Linked DNA regions of Homo sapiens. The gene in region 2 interacts genetically with the main gene of each other region. Each region holds a gene or a part of one and is shown on either strand. Other genes may lie near its edges.

What was found.
Region 1: changes in MTFMT (region 2) and STK11 together harm fitness more than expected from each alone (negative genetic interaction), as found in Homo sapiens cells (one large-scale study listed by BioGRID).

The regions. Positions count from the first base shown.
Region 1 is NC_000019.10:1,208,778-1,212,590, reverse strand, and holds part of STK11 (serine/threonine-protein kinase STK11), read right to left. Parts: intron 1-3,813. UniProt on the Homo sapiens protein: Tumor suppressor serine/threonine-protein kinase that controls the activity of AMP-activated protein kinase (AMPK) family members, thereby playing a role in various processes such as cell metabolism, cell polarity, apoptosis and DNA damage response.
Region 2 is NC_000015.10:65,019,327-65,023,139, forward strand, and holds part of MTFMT (methionyl-tRNA formyltransferase, mitochondrial), read right to left. Parts: intron 2,291-3,813; coding exon 2,188-2,290; intron 947-2,187; coding exon 871-946; intron 1-870. UniProt on the Homo sapiens protein: Methionyl-tRNA formyltransferase that formylates methionyl-tRNA in mitochondria and is crucial for translation initiation.

The DNA.
Region 1 (3,813 bases), on a different chromosome or scaffold from region 2:
CCGTCTCAAAAATAAATAAATAAGTAAATAAAGGTGAACGTGGCGAAGCAGTGGCTCATACCTGTAATCCCAGCACTCTGGGAGGCCCAGGCAGGCGGATAGCTTGAGTCTAGGAGTTTGAGACCAGCCTGGACAACATGGCGAAACCCCATCTCTACAAAAAACTAGTCGGGTGTGGTGGTGCACATCTGCAGTCCCAGCTACCTTGGGGGCAGGAGGGTCACCTGAGCCCAGAGCTATGATTGCGCCACTGCACTCCAGCCTCGGCGATACAGTGAGACCCTGTCTCCAAAAAAAAAAAAAAAAAAAAAAAAAAAGGTGTTAAGAAAATTGAGTCCAGTTTGAGCAATACGGTGGCGTTTGTGGGATATACGGGCCGTCCAGCCGCCTCACTGATTCCCCGACAGCTACAGCAGCGCCCCAGATCCTGAGAGAGGAACCAACATTCCAGGCCTGCCCCAGCTGGCTGGGCACCGGAAGCCCACTGTGTGCACAGCCCAGAACCCCCAGTGGACCCATTACCCCCGCTGTTCTGCGGCTGCCCAGCCCCTGAGCTCCCTCTGGGTCTCAGAGCTCTCCCTCCCGCTGCCCAGAGAGGGGCACAAACAGAGGCCTCGAGGACACCCAGGCCTCACATGGCTGGCGCAGGGGCCTCAGCAGATGCTGGAACCCCATAAAGGCCGCCTGGGATGTAAAGACCTACAAAGTCCAGGACTGACTCCCAGCTCGCGAAAATCCTCTTTACCATAGGTCCAAGCATCTGCCAATCATCGCCGCAACCAGGCACACTGAGTGCCGCCCACCTCCCACCTCCTGGCTGGACACCGCGGGGGCGGTGCGGATGGGAGAGCCACAGCCCGGATCTGGGCCCGTTTCCTACGGCAGCAGTGATTTTCACATTTCCAAACAGGTAGAAAGAAAAGATACGAAAGCACAGTGTTTTGCAACAGGTGGAAGTGACAGGAAAGGGCAGGGCCGTGGGACACCGCCAGGCTGTGCGCTCACGGCAGCCCTGGGTGCCTCTGCGGAGGCTCCACAAGGCGGGCAGACTCCCTGCCTTCGAGCCCACTCTCACTGGGGTGGAAAGGGGGAGGGAGGCATGGCGGCCTTCTGCCTGCACCCCCCCCCCCAGAACCCCACTGTGGGCTCCGCAGCAGCAGCTAGCCGTGCTGTCCCCCGAGAAGCACGGGGAGTCGGGCTGGGCACAGGCGACCCTTTCCAGCCCTTCCCTGCTCCACCCTAGGAACCCACTGCCTACCAGAAACAGCCTATGGCACTGATTTTATTTTAATTAATTGTTTTTTTGAGACACAATTTCGCTCTTCTCTCCTAGGCTTGCCCAGCCTGGAATGCAATGATGCGATCTCGGCTCACCGCAACCTCCGCCTCCCAGGTTCAAGCGATTCTCCTTGCTTCAGCTTCCCCAGTAGCTGGACTACAGGCGCGCGCCACCACGCCTGGCTAATTTTTGTATTTGTAGTAGAGACGGAGTTTCGCCATATTGGCCAGGCTGGTCTTGAACTCCTGACCTCAGATGAAGTAGCTGGGATTATTGGCATGTGCCACCACACCTGGCTAGTTTTTCTATTTTTAGTAGAGAGAGGGTTTCACCATGTTGGCCACGCTGGTCTCAAACTTCTGACCTTGTGATCAAACCGCCTCGGCCTCCCAAAGTGCTGGGATTACAGGCGTGAGCCACCACGCCCGGCCCCAGCCCTTTTTTTTTTCGAGACGGAGTTTCACTCTTGTTACCCAGGCTGGAGTGCAATGGCATGGTCTTGGCTCACCGCAACCTCTGCTTCCCGGGTTCAAGTGATTCTCCTGCCTCAGCCTCCAGAGTAGCTGGGATTACAGGCGTGCGCCACCACACTCAGCTAATTTTGTATTTTTAGTAGAGACAGGGTTTCACCATGTTGGTCAGGCTAACTCCCAACCTCGGGTGATCCACCCGCCTTGGCCTCCCAAAGTGCTGGGATTACAGGCATGACCGAACATGCCCAGCCCTCTTTTTAACTCATTGATGCTTTTTGGAACTTTCCTATTTCTAATAAGATTATACTTTTTGCCGGTGAGAGCGGGACAAGGCATGGACTCCAGGGCTGCCTTTCTGGGAAGGAAGGGAAGAGACGGGACTCACGCCGGCTCCATCTGCCCCAACCCACCCCCCTTGGTGATCGCCCACGCTTTCCACACCAACTGGAGGACCGGACGCCTGAGGCTTGTCTGGAAGGTTCCAGACACTCGCTGCGAGACACAATCTGAGCGGAGTTTATTAAACTTCCCACACACAAAGGAGGCTTTTTCCCTGCAGCGCTGGCAGCAAGGCTGGCCAAGGCCTTGGGCCTCAGGGCTGGGCAGTGGACACCCCTTCTCCTTGACAGCACTCTGCACATGGCAGCCTCCAGTCAGAACACACCAGCTCCCAGAATAGGAGGACCCCCTGGCAGCACCCAGGGGGCTGGAGGAAATGCAGTGGCTCCTGAATCACAGCTGTAAGCGGGGCAGCTCCTGATGGCAGACAGTGACCAGGAAGGGACAGGGCTCACCCCTCATCCCAGGGGGCCCCGCAAGGGCAAAGCCGTTACACACTCAGGGCCAGGATGAAATTGGACGCTGAACACTAGTGAGGGTGCATCACTCACTTCAAGGCAGTGGGGTCAAGCTGTGGGTAGCTGCGACGCACAGTCCAGTCCAGGTCCTGCCAACCCCTCTGCCTCCCTGCCTCCGTGTTCCCTCCCGTTCTCCCAGGCACTGGGCCAGACTAGGTTCCTGCAACCTTCTTGCCTGTCTCCACCAAGACCCTCAGGCTCTGCCCTACCGTTCAGGTGCTCACCTGAGCTCCCAGGACCTCCTCCACTGACTGTTCAGGAAAGCAGGGGGCTCACTCTCACAGTCAGGCTTCCACCCTCCAGCGTCTGTCTTCCCATTGACCCTGCATATACATTTGTCAAAACTCAAGCCAGATTTATTTATTTATTTATTTATTTATTTATTTATTTATTTATTTTTGAGACAGAGTCTCGCTGTGTCGCCCAGGCTGGAGCGCAATGGTGCGATCTCGGGTCACCGCAAGCTCCGCCTCCCAGGCTCCAGCAATGTTCTGCCTCAGCCTCCCGAGTAGCTGGGATTACAGGCACACGCCACCACACTCGGCTAACTTTTGTATTTTTAGTAGAGATGGGGTTTCACCATGTTGGCCAGGCTGGTCTCGAACTCCTGACCTCAGGCGATCCACCCACCTCAGCCTCCCAAAGTGCTGGGATTACAGGCGTGAGCCACCGCGCCCGGCCCCTAAGCGTGGGTTTCTCACTGCTGGGAGAGAGACTGTCACTGGCCCCTTTAGAGGGCACCTGCTACCCCCAGCACAGGCTCTGCCTAGCCCCTGACCAACCCATCTCACAGAGACCAGGCACAGGCTCTGCCTAGCCCCTGACCAACCCATCTCACAGAGACCAGGCACAGGCAACTGCTCCACTGACTCAAGGCACTGGCCACACCTTCTACCCGGGTCCAGACTGGGCACTGAGACATCAGAAAGGCCTCGTGGAAACACACCCTTCCCAGCCGCTCCCATTTAACCCTGACTGCTCCAGCTCCAGAGTACAAACTTCAGAGCCTGTGCCCCTGGTTTCCGCATGTCACAGCCTGCATGCTGATTAAGAAGCGTGCTGGCCGGGCGCGGTGGCTCACGCCTTTAATCCCAGCACTTTGGGAGGCTGAGGCAGGTGGATCACGAGGTCAGAAGTTCAAGACCAACCTGGCCAAGATGGTGAAACCCCGTCTCTACTAAAAAAAAAAAAAAAAAATTAGCTG
Region 2 (3,813 bases):
TCAGCTATATGTTTTACATATTCAAAAAATAACATTTAATCATAAAGAAAAATAAAAAGTAATCCCTAAAATTAAAAACAAACTGAAACAAATGTTTATACTCCTAACTCTACTAAAAAAAACAAAAAAGAAGAAAACAAATGTCACTGAAACACACTCTTTCCAAAAACTTTAAGCCTGAATCCAGCCAAACCTTTAGAACTAATTATAGGAAATATAAGAGATAGGGAACAAGTTAAACAACACTGGAAGAAAACAAATCAAACAACTGGCCTGGTCTCTTCAAAAAGTCAATGACATAGAGAGAGGAAAAAAAGAGGAATTTTTTTTAGAGACTAAAGAGACATAACAACTAATTACAATTAAATCCTAGTTTGAAAAATAAAACTATAAAATAAATTTTTAGACAATTAGGAACACTTAAATATGAACTGAACATTGGATGCTATCAGGAAATTGTTCATTTTTCTTAGGAAAGGCATACTAAACTACTTAGAGATGAAAGATCATGATTCATACTTCCAAATGAATAAGCAGAATTTAAAATACACGTAATAAATACATAAAGAGAAAGAAAATATGGACAAACATTAATAATTGTTGACTCTGGGGTAAACTGGTGTTTATTATACCAGTCTTTCTATTTAATATTTTCAAAATCAAGAAGTTGGAAAAAAATGCTCAATCCTTCATGAGGCTATATGCTAAGAGGGAGAAAGAATGCTTTCTACCATTCTTTGGAAAAGCACACAAAAGTGGGCACTCAATCAAAATTAAGGGAAAAGTACAGCTAAGAAGTCAGAATGTTCAGATGCTATCGTGACAAGCAGAACCTTTAGAAAGATGAGAGTCTCTGCAGCCTTCACTCACCGTAAGTCGCCCCCTCCATTGGCTGCTGCCTTCCATTGCTCAGACTTTCAGGCAAATTTTTCAAAACTGAAATGAGCTACAAAAAAAAAAAAAAGAGTGTGATATATTCAAAATGAAGGGAAGAACAAAAGCAGAAACACATTACAATTCAGCACCATGAAATAACCTATAACTTTTTTTCTTTTTCTTTTTTCAAATTAAAAAAAAAATCTTTACTATTGGCTCTTCAAGGCTGAACCTATAACTTTAAAAGATCTATGTGGCAGGGTAAGGTAGTACATTGGCTTAAGCTGTGAGGATAGGTGTCTACTTGGGGAAACCTCAGTAGAGATTCTGCTTTCTGTAGAGTACAGGTCATTGATTCACTTCTAGAGAATGCTGTGGAAGCTTTGGCATCAGGATAGCCCGGGCTTGGCTATACACACTCTCACCCCATGGGGGCCAAGGCAGTGAAACCTCACAGGACAATGTACTATGGAGTCACCCAGCTCTGGGTTCAAGTCCTAGTTCTACCACCTACCAGCTGTCTCATTGTGGAAAAGTTATTTAGCTTGTCTCTGGCCTTCAATGTCATCATCTGTGAAACAATCAACAGCAACAACTACCTCAAAGTTGAGAGGGTAAAAAGAAAAAGTCCATACAGTATCTAGAACAGTTGTAGAACACAAGCCAATGTTCAATAAACGGCAGTCACTATTATAAGATCATTTGTGAGGTAAGTGCCTAGAATAGGAAATACCATCTCTACAGGTGGGAAAAAAATATTCCTCTGTATAAAATTAACCCGTTCATATGGAAAACATAAGTTTAGTCATTAAACATTTACCCAGACTCTACTCATGCAGTTTCAATGAATTATATATACAAAGCCACAGAAAAAAGAAGGATCATCTATAGGTAGAATGGTCAGCAGAATTCTAGTGCAAATGACTGAAGCCAGGCAAAGAAATGGAAGGAAAGCTAAGAGTCGCTTAGAAAATTGCTGTTAGTTCATTCTGACAGGGATGCAAGGTATACATACCAGAGTGCGGAGAGTGAAATTGAGAAGAATAGTCTAAGACCTCACTATGGCATGTAGTAGGTCATGTAAGATCACCTGTTTCACTTGAAAGCCTTTATTCAGTACTTACTCTTTGTAAATTCTCAAAGATTTACATGAGATCACAAATGCCAGGCTAATTTTTAGGAAGCCAAAGATAGAAATTACTCTTTTTTGTTTTTAAGAAAATTAGAAGTCACAAAATTGTTCTTCTTTTTATAACCACTTAGGAAACCCACTAAATGAGTAAAAAGCAGTAGGATATTGGGGAATTATACCATGTTGGCACCCAGTCTTGACAACACTGCTTCCAATTCCTTTGCAGTGCTCTTGGGTGGCACAGGAACAGTTTCTTGTTTGAGAATTGGGCCTACATCAAACCTAGCAAAAAATCAAAAGCAAATAATGACAATGATTACCATTTCCTGAATCAATGTTTGTCTACACACAAAAAGATACAAGCTGGGTACAGTGGTCTGCATGCCTATAGTCCTAGTTGCTCAGGAGGCTGAGGCAGCAGGATTGCTTGATCCCTGGAGTTTGAGACCAGCCTGGGCAACACAGCTAGCCCCTATCTCTTAAAAAAAATAAATAAAGATAGTTTATCACTGGCTATTAATTTGGCTGTTAGACATTAGCAAGGAAGATATGTCAGTTTGAAAGACGGGAGAACAAAATATGGCCTGTGTTTAGAGTCTAAATTTATTTTTCCCTAAAGCAAAGAAACGATACAGTTGCATATCAGGAATTTAATTACAATTACAGAAAAATTATATCATTAGTAATAGCATGAAAAAATCTCTATTTGTATATGAAAAGCATAAGGCAAAGAATTTATTTTCCATGGAAGTACAGTTAGGAAGTTCATAATTATTTATTTCTATAGTCCCTTCCTCAAAGGATAAGAGTTTTGCCTAGATTATCACCATAGGTGATTATAAGTAGGGCCAGGCGTAGTGGCTCATGCCTGTAATCACAGCACTTTGGGAGGCCAAGGTGGGTGGATCACGAGGTCAAGAGATCCTGGCCAACATGGTGAAACCCTATCTCTACTAAAAATACAAAAAATTAGCCGGGCATGGTAGCGTGTGCCTGTAGTCCTAGCTATTCGGGAGGCTGCAGCAGGAGAATCGCTTGAACCTGGGAAGCAGAGGTTGCAGTGAGCTGAGATCACCCCACTACATTCCAGCCGGGGTGACAGAGTGAGACCCCGTCTCAAGAAAAAAAAAAAAAAGTAAATGCAAGTATATTTGCATTCCCACAAGTCTGACATTTTATATCAAGCTCTGTAAACACTGGTCATAGGTTTTCATGAGCAATATGCTTTATTTAATTTTTTTTTGCTTTTTGTTTTTGTTAATTCTATTTCTAACCTAGGAGCTTTAGTAAAATGTTTATTGTGAAAAATTGCAAACATTCACAAAAACGGAGTGAACAGTCTAATGAATCATCATATACACATCATTCAGATTTTTTTTTTTTTTTTTTTGAGACAGGTTCTTGCTCCGTCGCCCAGGCTGGAATGCAGTGGTGCGATCTTGCCTCACTGCCGCCTCAACCTCCTAGGCTGAAGAGATCCTCTCACCTCAGCCTCCTGAGTAGCTGGGACTACAGGTGTGTATCACCACACCTGGCTAATTTTTTTATTTTTTATATGTTGCCCAGGCTGGTCTTGAACTCCCAGACTCAAGTGATCCTCCCACCTCGGCCTCCCAAAGTTTAGGATTACAGGCGTGAGCCACCATGCCTGGCTCAGATTTTAGAACTACCAAAGTTTTGCCACTCTTGTCTCATCTACTCTCTCTCTTGTTTTCTGAAGTAAGTTAAAGCAAATCCCAGATACCACGTTGTTCTTGCGAACTTGTGAATTATTCTTTTCTAAGGGGAAATTAGGTGGTAACAGG